Linked DNA regions of Homo sapiens: region 1 is linked to region 2. Evidence: fine-mapped expression QTL. A gene starts in region 2. The other region holds a variant in brackets. All regions are shown on one strand. Distances are between the middles of the regions.

The links.
Region 1: its variant is fine-mapped to the expression of THY1 in thyroid (GTEx, PIP 0.97).

The regions. Positions count from the first base shown.
Region 1 is chr11:119,476,029-119,481,400 of GRCh38, reverse strand. The region is part of intron 3 of USP2-AS1 (USP2 antisense RNA 1); the gene reads right to left. Among named protein-coding and RNA genes, the nearest start is that of THY1, 56 kb to the right of the region's middle. RefSeq lists enhancers at 3,788-4,287, 4,288-4,789. The variant A/C (reference allele first, on the strand shown) is at 2,095.
Region 2 is chr11:119,420,652-119,426,023 of GRCh38, reverse strand. THY1 (Thy-1 cell surface antigen) reads left to right here and starts at 2,852. Exons shown (of 4, transcript NM_006288.5): 1 at 2,852-2,911; 2 at 5,095-5,155. The coding sequence starts at 5,119. All of the region lies in intron 2 of USP2-AS1 (USP2 antisense RNA 1), which reads right to left. RefSeq lists enhancers at 2,974-3,539, 3,540-4,106.

The sequences.
Region 1 (5,372 bases), 55 kb before region 2:
CAGTAGTGAAGAAACAGACTAAAAGCCCTGCCCTTGCAGAGATTACATCCTAATGGGGGAAAGAGGTAATGCATAAGTAAGGTCAACACGTAAAACAGACGGTGTATTAGAGGGATGAGCACCCAGGAGAAAAATAAAGCCGGAAGCGGTGAGTAGTGTCAGGGAGGCTGTGGTTTTACACAAAGTGGCCAGACACGGTCTCACCCAGGCAGTGACATTTGCGTAAAGCCTGGGAGGAGACGAGGAGAGAGTTGAGCAGACTTCTGAGCTAGGGCATCCCAGAGAGCAGGCACAGCAAGCGCGAAGGCCCGAGGCCTGCCTGGAGGGTCTGAAGAACAGAAAAAGGCCCTGAGGATTATGTGGAGGCTGGAGAGGGCAGGGGTGGGGGCAGACCCTGAAGGACCCTGTGGGCCATGGCGAGGGCTTTGCCTCCATGACATGGGGCTTCATGGCCGGGCTCTGAGCAGGGGGATGGCGTAACTAGCTTGTGTTTTAAGAGGATCTCTCTGGGCACTGTGTTGAGAACAGACCGTGGGGTCAAGGGTGGAAACAGACATCAGTTAGGAGTCCACTGCAACCTCCAAGCACCTTGGCCCTGGGGTAGCAAAGACAGTGGGGAGGTGAAAATGGCAGGATTCTCCCAGGTGTAAGAGAGAAAGGAGTCAAGGACGATGCCAAGGCCTTGGCCTTAGGTAGAGAAAGAAGCTGTCCCAGTACTGTCTTTTGCTGAGGCTCAATGGGAGAAGTCAGGAGTTCCGTTTGGGAATTGACGGTCAGAGTTGTCAGGTGAAATGTCACGGGGGCTGTTGATAAATGAGTGTGGAGCTCAGAGGAGAGGCCCTGCCTAGAGCTACAATCCGCAAGTCATCAGCACTTGGGTGACATTCAGAGTGAGACCGGATGAGATATCAGACACTCTGAAAGCAGAGCGAAGGGACCAAGGAGAGAGCCCCAGGGCCCTCTGACATTTCCAGATCAGGAAGATGTTGAGGAATTGGGGAGAATGAGAAGGAGGAGCCAGCGAAAGAGAGGACACCAGGAAGGGGGGCTCCCAGGAACCCAAGTCAGAAAAGAGGAGGAAGCGACCAACCACGTAAAAAGCCACTGATCCTTAAGTCAGGGCTGAGAAAGGTCCCCTGGGGTTAGCAATGTAGAGGTCACTGGTGACCTTGATTGTGGTCAGAGTGGGGACAAAAGTCTGACAAGAGTATGTTCAAAGGAGAATGAAAAGAGAGAAATCAGAGACAAGTTGAGACAATTCTTTTGTGGGATTTTGCTGTAAAAGAGAGAAGAGAGATGGGGAGCTAGCTGGAGGGGCCGTGAGTCAAGAGAGTTTTTTCAAGGCGGGAAAAAATACGAGCTTGCCTCCATGCTGACGGGTGATTGGGGTACAAAGGGAAAAACGTATTGAAGGAGAGGTCAGGGAGAAATATGAGAGTGCTGTCCTCAAGCAGATGAGAAGATCTGACTGTGCTTCCAGAGGAGATGCACTTCACAGCCGCCAGAGGGCTAGAATGGAACACCAGGCAATCACAAGAATGGGGAGAAACTGGAACCCCCAGGCCCTGCTGGTGGGAATGTAAAATGATACAGCCACTTTGGATAACAGTTTGGCAGTTCTTCTAAAAGTTAAACCTGCAGTTACCATATGACCCAGCAATTCTACTCCTAAGTATGTACCTAAGAGAACCAGAAACATACAACCACACAAAAACATGCACACAAATATTCATAACAACATTGTCTGTAAGAGCCAAAAAGTAGAAACGACACCAATGTCTATCAACTGACCAATGGAATATTATTCAGCCATAAAAAAGAACAAAGTTCTGATACAGGCTACAACATGGATGAGCCGTGAGTACAAAATGCCAAGTGAAAGAAGCCAGTAGCGAAAGACCACATGGTGTGTGACTCCATTTATATGAAATGTCTAGAACAGGTGAGTCTGGAGAGACTAGATTTCTTCAGAGACAGCATAGATCGGTGGTCTCCAGGGACCAGGGAGGGGGAATGAGGACTGACTGCTAATAGGAACGGGGTTTCCCGTGGGGATGAAAATGTTCTGGAATTAGGTGGCGGTAAATGTTACAC[A/C]ACTCTGTGAACACGCTAAAAAGCACTAAATTGTACACTTTAAAGGGGTTAATTTCATGGAGTATGAGTTATATCTCAATAATAGTATTTTTTTGAAGATCTGGTCATACAGAGTGGAGGGGTTGCCTCAGCCCAGGAAGGAAGCAGAAGACCCAGGCAGATGCAAGCAGGTGTGTGGTGTGGGGGTGGGGACCATGGACATTCTCTCCCAGTGGCTTCTATTTTCTCAGTGAGACAGGAAGTGACATCATCAGCTGAGAGTAGAAATGGAGGCTCCAGGGAAGAGCACAGGGACAGAACAGATATGTCACCGCAAGAGGAAATGAATGGGCTATGGAGATTCAGGAGGATTCCCAGGCAGCATCAGGCCCACGGGAAGGAAGCAAAGGTGCTGGGAGGCAGGGGGCAGTGGTCCCATGTCAAGTGGGCCCAACAGCCTGAGAGTGTGGAGACCTGGGTCACCAGCATTGTGCTCCCCACATAACACGGTTCGCCCACTCTCTGGACATACAGGGGTTCCCATGGGAGTTTGATACAAACCCTAAAAATATGCCTACCTACTACCCATCACCTTTTAAAATGCACATTCCCTGTCACTCTGCAATTCCTCTTGGGGAATTCAGTCTCAGAAACACTTGCATGCAGACACAGCTGCATATGCAGGGATGCTCACAGCAGAATTGTTAGCAATCTCAAAAGATGGGAAACCACCTAAGTGTCCATTACTGGGTAAGTGGTTTTTAAAAATTATAATACATCCACACGATAGAATACTCTGAAGCAGTAAAAGCCATGAAGTGGTCCAGACGTACTAACATGAAAGGATTTCCATGGCATATCATGGGTGGAAAATCAGGTTGCAGAATAATGTGTGTAATATTATATAATTTTCTTTCCTTTCTTTTTATACAAAATGGTATGTATGCATGTGTGTGTTTAGATTATTAAAATATACATAAGGCCTGGAAAGGATGCACTCTAAATTATTAATGGTGTTTAATCTCAAGAACTAGGTTTTGCAGGAAGGGTTGAGGGGGTTGATGAGGCAGAAGGGATTTCAGAGGGAGGCTTTCATTTTGTGCTTTTTATGTTTTTTGAACTATGCTTTTTGAACATGTAACATGGAGCATATATGCTTTGGAAATTTAAACAGGAAAGAAGGCTGAGCTCAGTGGCACATGCCTGTAATCCCAGCACTTTGGGAGGCTGAGGCAGGAGGATCGCTTGAACCCAAGAGTTTGAGGCTGCTGTGAGCTGTGATCACACCACTGCATTCCAACCTGGGCAACAGAAGGAGACCCTTTCTAAAAAATAAAATAAAATAAAATAAAATAAAATAAAAAGGAAAGAGCTCATTGTGCCCTCTTGCGCTTCTTTCCCTCTCTGGACTAGAGGACCCTGGAAGGCCAGCATCCTCCCTAGCCCAGACAATGCTGTGCATTGGTCCCTGGAGATCATGGCGGGTCCTGACACCTGGGCTTTCCCTTTGCCCACCTCTCTTCACCCCCAGACAAGGGATGAGGTTCAGAAAAGCAGGAACACTTGCAGCACCCAAACCTCCACTTTTTCTCCTCCCCTCACACCACCACTGCTCCCCTCCAGCTACCTCCCTGGGGAAGAAGGTGTCTGATCAATCCAGTAGAACCAAAGCGGAGAGAGGTAGCTCCGTAATGCTAATAGCATGGGTTTATATAATGCTTGCTGTGTACCAGGCACCATTCTGAACACTTCTCATGAATGAACTCACAACAGTTCTATGGGTTCCACACTATTACTTTACTATCCTGCATTGTAGATTTCAAAAACACAAACAAACAAATAGGAGTCACAAAAGGCCAAGTAATTTGCCCGTGATGCTACTACCATCTATCTGTAAGTGGAACCTGCACAGTGAGGCTGCAGAATCGGCACACTGACCTCTGCAAGCCGTGCCCCTGCGAAGCCACAGTCCCGCCCTCTTCATTCCTTCCTCTGCTCTTCTGTGGCTCTGGGTCACCTGACGTCTGCTAGGGTCAGGTACTCTCCAGGGCAAGACTGTGGCATCCTCAACACAGACCCCCCGCGCTGACACACGCCTGGCAGCCAGTGAGTGCTCAGCAAGTGTCTGTTGAATTAACTGTGGCGTGCACCACCCTCTCTCCCGCCCAGGGATGAGCAGATCCTTTCCCCTTCAGAGCAGTCCAAACAAGGCAGCAAGTTTGCTCAGGAGCCTTCCGGAGTACTGAGTGGAGAGCAGCCCATGGGGATAGAACAGAGGCTGCCACTGAGCTCCTGCTCCTGCTGGATCAGACTCCTGCTCTGGGTCAGACCACTACCGCCCTGGCTGTCCAGGTCCAGCTGCTGGTAACGGTTTGTGTTGGGAAGGGTTCCTCCCAGGTTGGCCTCAACTCCTGTCTGCCCTTGACTGAGCTGGACTCAAGCCTTGCAGCTGCCCCATCCCTCTCCCAGAACCTGGCCCCACTCCTTGGGGTTCAAGCTGCAGAAGGGTGAGCCCAGACAGCCCATCCCTGAGGCCTGGATCTGGCTACCCTTCCTCCAGCTCATCCACTCCCAGCCACCTTGGCTACTTCCACCCTAGACACAGCTAGGTGCTCACCCTGAAACAGGAAGTCCCCACAGCTGACCCTTCAGTCCTTCGCTTTACCTGCAGAAACCCCCAAGCTCTTGTAGCTCTAAGTCCCCTGAGAGCTACTCACAAGTTCAAGTTTTCAGGCTGAGGGTCATCAAAGCCCCTCTGTTCATTTGCAGAACCTGGAGCAGAGCAACATCTCCACAGACCAGCTCACCTGGCCAGTTCAGAGGCAACTCTGCCCACTTCCTTGGTCCCCCTGTGACTTCCATGGCATAGAAATTTGGGAATTCAAGCTTCCATCTATCCATCCATCCATCCATATATCCATCCATCCATTCATCTACTCAGCCACATGTCCAGCCACCCACCCAACCATCCATCCACTCATCCATCCATCTATCCATTCATTTATCCAACCATCCACCCATCCACCCATCCATCCATCCGTATATCCACCCACTCATCCACCCACTCATCCACCTATATATCCATCCATCTATATATCCATCCATTATCCATCATTCATCCATCTATTCATCTACCTACCCATCTTTCCACCCACCCACTATCCATCATTCATCCATCTATTCGTCTACCTACCCATCTTTCCACCCACCCACCCACCATCCATCTATTCATCTATATATCCATCCATCCATCATCCATCTACTTATCTACCCACCCATCTATCCACCCATATACCCAT
Region 2 (5,372 bases):
GGAGTCAGGAGACTTAAGATCTAATAGTCCAGACCATGCTTCAAAATATTTGTCTGACCTTGACAAATCATTACCTTTCTCGGGCCTCAAGTCCCAGCTATAAAATAGTGGGGCAAGCCAGGTGCAGTGGCTCCCACCTGTAATCCCAGCATTTTGAGAGGCCAGGCGGGAGGATTACTTGAGCCCAGGAGTTCAAGATCAGCCTGGGCAACATGGTGAGATCCCATCTCTACAAAAAAAAAAAAAAAAAATTAATTAGCTGGGCATAGTGTCAAGTGCCTATTGTCCCAGCTACTCAGGAGGCTGAGGTAGGAGGATCACTTGAGCCCAGGAGGTCAAAGCTTCAGTGAGTGGTGATTGCACCACTGCACTCTAGCCTAGGCAACAGAGTGAGACCCTGGCTCAAAAATAAAATAAAATAAAATTTAAAAGATGGGACCACTGTAGTCACCTCTGTGATTCTAGAAAGACAATCTGATGAAATGAGGGAATGGCTGGCAGTCCCTAGGTCATGCTAAAGGACTGTGTGTTTTTAGAAGAGTTTTTATCCCCATATGTTTCTGGGTGGGAAAACAGGAGATGGTGGGAAAAGAGAGATCTAAGAGACCAACAGGGCAGCCGCAGTCTTCTGGCAGGAAGTCTTGCCTTAGCTGGATTCCTCTAAAGCCTTGCTGGTTTCAGCACTCCGATCCTATCCACAGTAAATGGAGTTTTAAAATCTCCTCCCTCCACCACCTTGTGCTCTATCCCCTGACCTCAGATGTCTAATCAGAGCCATTAATTCCATCCAATCAGAGATCTTGCTTGGCAGACACAGAATTGCCACACCTTCTACAGTCTATACTCCCCTCCCCTGCCTAAAAGCAAGGTGCTTGGGGACCCAGAAATTAGGCCAGGTCCTCATAACCTTATCAAAATAGCACTGCTAGGCCTTCCACCCAGCAACACTCAGAGACAGGGCCAAAGAGTGGGAAACGGAGCATCCAGGGCCTCAGCCAGCAGAGCCCAGATGCCTTCTGCAGTTAAGATCCCTGGACTCAGAATCAGAAAGCTGTTAAGCAGGAAGGAGTGCGCTGCCATGAAGAGGCAGACAGAAGCCAGAGCCAGTGTGTCTGGAATGCATCAGGTAGATGAATGGGAAGATGGCTGGGATGGAGTTGGAGGGAGGAGGGAAGTCAGCAGCCAGGGGCCAGGACATTCATGGCCTTAAAAAGTATCCTACAAACAAGAAGCCAGGTTAGCTCACCTATGAAGAGGGACAGTCTTACCAGATCATGTGTTAGAGTCCCCAGATCCTGGGGAGCGTGAGAAAAGTGCAGACTCAGCTGGCTCTAGTACTAGATTAAGGAGGTCCTAGGTGGGCAAGGCCAGCTGCATTTTTCATAAAATGCCCTAGAAACCTCTGCAGTTTACCAAAGTGAATAGCTCCTTTGGACTTAACCATCTGCAAGGCTCATTCCAGTTAGAGTGTTCCATCACCCTAAATGCTGGGAAACCAAGCGAATCTCCTCCCACTTGCAAGCTTCCAACAGTGGCTTCCAACAGTGCCACTGCAGTATCAGAAACTGCAGGGAAGGTGCCAGGGCTGACTTCCATGAAGAAATAGGAGAACAGGCAGGCAGACATTGGGGAGGCCCACAGAATGTCGTGATCAGAATTCATAAAGAGGCTGGCAGGATACAAATCAATCAAATAAACGTTAGTTCAAAAAAATTCACTACACCTGTGAGTGAGAGAAAGTCATCAGCACTGTCTCTAAAAATGAGCCTAGGGCTTCTGGTGACATCCAATCGGTGGGTTATCAGGAGTGCCCCAGGTGATCAGGAGTTGGCCTCGACTCAGTCCTTTTTGTGCTGTCTCCTCCTCTTTCCCAGAGTTCCTCTCTCTCTTCTCCCACTAGGCAGGGATGAGCAAGAGGAATGGCTCACCCTTGAGAGCTGGGGTCCATAGCCCAGGTCAGTTCTCCAGCTCTCCCACTTACCAGCCAAGACAGGAGGTGAGGATTGAGATGGGATGAACCCAGCAGGCGGCCATGGGTTAAAGGTCGCCATGAATGTAATGTGCCCAGCACAGTGCCTGCTAAAAGGCAACACTCCCTTCCTGGTCTGAAGACCAAACAAGCAGACTGTACTCAGGAAAGCCAGAAGAACCTTCCAGCTGTCTGGACCAGAAGGTGCCAGCCCAGGGGCTGAAGAAGACGTAATGCCCAGAGCAAAAAGCGCCTGCAGCCCCCTGAAGGGCTGGGTGCTCTGGAATAGATGAGGGGGCGAAATGGGGCTGGGGACCAGGGACGGACAGGGTGGGTCCAGCACCTGCCTCGCTTCCGAAGGGCTGCTCCAACACTGAAAAACACCCAACCAGCTTCCTTTCAGAAAGACTGGAATATTCCAAAACTTCTCACTGGAGGCTCCGGAGGAGGTGGGCTCCAGCTGAAAAGGAAATGTGGAGGCGTGGGCGCTCCCGGCCTGCATCCTGCACCTCTTACACTTTGGTTTTCCCACAGACTCCTGAAGAATAGGTCAGAAGAAAGGGTTAAAGCCTTAAAAGGGGAACAACCATTGCGGGGCTCAGGGAGGAGGATAATGTTCTTTGGGCTGCCGCACCCTGATCCCCGGGGTCCCGAACCCTCCCGTCCCTGGCCAGGCCTGCCAGCCACAGGGTGAGGGCCCCCTTCCGCCGCAACCTGCCACTCTCACACCAATGCGGGACCGCCTTCTCTTCCTTCCCCACCCCCCACCCCACCCTGCCGTCCTTTCTCCCCCAATCTCCGCCTCTGATTGGCTGAGCCCCCGGCTCCCCGCTCCCCCTCTCCTCCATCCCCGGTGAAAACTGCGGGCTCCGAGCTGGGTGCAGCAACCGGAGGCGGCGGCGCGTCTGGAGGAGGCTGCAGCAGCGGAAGACCCCAGTCCAGGTGGGAACTGGAGCCGGTGGGACCTGGGGCTCGGGGACCGCCGTCAGGCGCCCATGCAAGACTTCCCAACACTAGGCTTCGGGCCACGGTCCGAGGGCGCCCAGGGAAGAAGGGCGCAGAGCTTAGGGAGGGGCCTGCTTTCCAGGCAGGGGCGGGAGGGGGATGCTTCTGCAGGGCAGGGGCCGCGTGGCACCCTGATGTCTTTCGGGGAAGGCGCTCCCGGGCTTTCGCCCGCTGGGGGACTGGTGTCTGGGGCTGGGGCGCTGGAGAACAGGGAGGAAGGGCACCAAGGACAGCCTGTGGGTCTACATTCCACCCAGACGTCCCCAAACCCAGCTCGCAGAGGCGGGGAGGAGGACGGATGAAACTGCGGGGAGAGGATGGAGGATGGCGAGCTAGAGGGAATCTGCCGGGTGACCTCGCGGCGGGCTGGGTGCGGGGCACCGGAGGAGAAGGAAGCCGCAGTGCCGCAGGCGGGGACTGGGTGGAAGGCGGGCGGACGGGGGAGGGGAGAGCTGGAAAAGGATGAGAGAGGGGGAAGGGGGACTCATTTGGGAAAGGAGAGGATTGGAATACGGAAATGGATTAAGGATGAGGCCCGCCGGGGGCTTGAGAGGGAGGAAGAGCAGACCTTCTCTGGGTCTGGAGCCGCCTGAGGACACAGACCAGAGGAAATGAATACAGACTGCACCTCCCCAGCCGCTCTCCACCCCTCCCCTGGCTCTTCTACCCTCTCCAGCCCCAGACCCATTTCTTCCCTTTCTTGCTCTGGCCATTGCTCCCCCTTCCCCTCCTAGATCCCAAGCCCGCACAACATCTCAAACAAGAGTCCTCGATTCAAAAGCCAGATGCCGACCCCCCTTCCTCCTGGATCTGGCTCAGGGCAGCAGCTCCACCCCGGGACAGAGAGAGCATTGATTGTAGCTGCAGCCGCCGCGGGATCCTAGCCTCACCCGTCAAGGGGCTGAGCGCCAGGGACCCTGAACTCGTCTAGTGGTGCGCCCTGCGCACCCGGGCGCACTCAACCGAGGCAATGCCCTGCGCGCTCTCGCGGGTGCACGCCCCTTCTGTGGCCTCTCCTGGGCGAGCACTGCTCTGCAGATAGGCTAGACTACCGGCTCCGCGTCGCCTCGCCAAGGGTTGGTTCAGCCAAGGCTGCAAAAAACAAAAAAAGACCAGGCAGACAGCCTATCCAGGGTGGCTATTGAAACTGGGCTGGAAAACTGCAGTCCCAGGAACTCCAGAGAGCTGGACATTGGGAAGCATCCTTGGCTCACATACAATCGGAGATCACTATGTCTTTCTCTCCTCCAGGAACACGATTAGCTTGTGTCCTATCCAGATAGGAATAGATGCTCCCTATCTGGGAGCATCCTTAGCTATGGTGAATGGTATCTAGCCATCCACTGGGGATGGCGAGTGACTTAGGGATTTGTGTCTCACGTATATGAAGCAGTCATCGCCAGATGTTGGTTGTTTTTCTTAACCCCCATCATAACCCGGTGGGTATGTAAGATTCAGAGAGATTCATTCATTCATTCACAATAAATATCTTTGGAGTGTATGCTATATGCCAGTAATCTGCAAACGGAAACGGTTTTGAGCATTGGGGATTTTCTTCTGAACAGGAAATGGGAAGTCCCTAAATGGGGAGTCTTTGTTTAACAGATACAGAGTTTTACTTTGAAAGACAAAAAGAGTTCCGGAGATGGGCTGCATAGCAACGTGAATGTATCCAGCACTGCTGAATATACTGAATTTAAGTACTGAATTTAAATGGTTAAAATAGTAATTATTATGCTTTTTGTATTTTACCACGATTAAATTTTTTTTTTAAATACGAAGCCTCAGCCCTCATAGGTCTTATATTACCATACACTATGTTAATGTAAGAAGAGGAGAAAGAGTGGTAAAGTTACTTAAAGTCACCCAGCTAGTAAGTGCTCCATGGCCAAGCGCAGAAACACACCGTGACTGGGCTTGTTCTCCCTCCTTCCTTGCTTTCCCTGAGCAGGAAAGAGCCAGTGGCAGTATCATGTTCAGTGAGATGCAGGGACGAGAGGGGGAATGGAGAGAGGGACTTAGATGACTGCCATAGCCACTATGCCATGTTCCCAGGGACCCCCAGCCCTGGTGGTAAGTGTGGCACAGCTTGGCTGATTCCCATCCTGTTCCCACCCCAGATCCAGGACTGAGATCCCAGAACCATGAACCTGGCCATCAGCATCGCTCTCCTGCTAACAGGTACCCGGCATGGGGCAGGACTGGGGCTCCAGGCGCCCTGGCTTCCTTCCCTCCAGAGAAGCAGCTTCTCCCTCACAGTCTCAGAAAAGCGCAGGTGACAAAGAGAGGGCTCTTTTTCATCCTGAAGTCAGCCAATCCACCGCGCTGATATTCTGACGGCCTGAGGTGGTTTTTGAAAACACAGTTTGCTGAGCCCTCCTTCACACTATTGAACTAG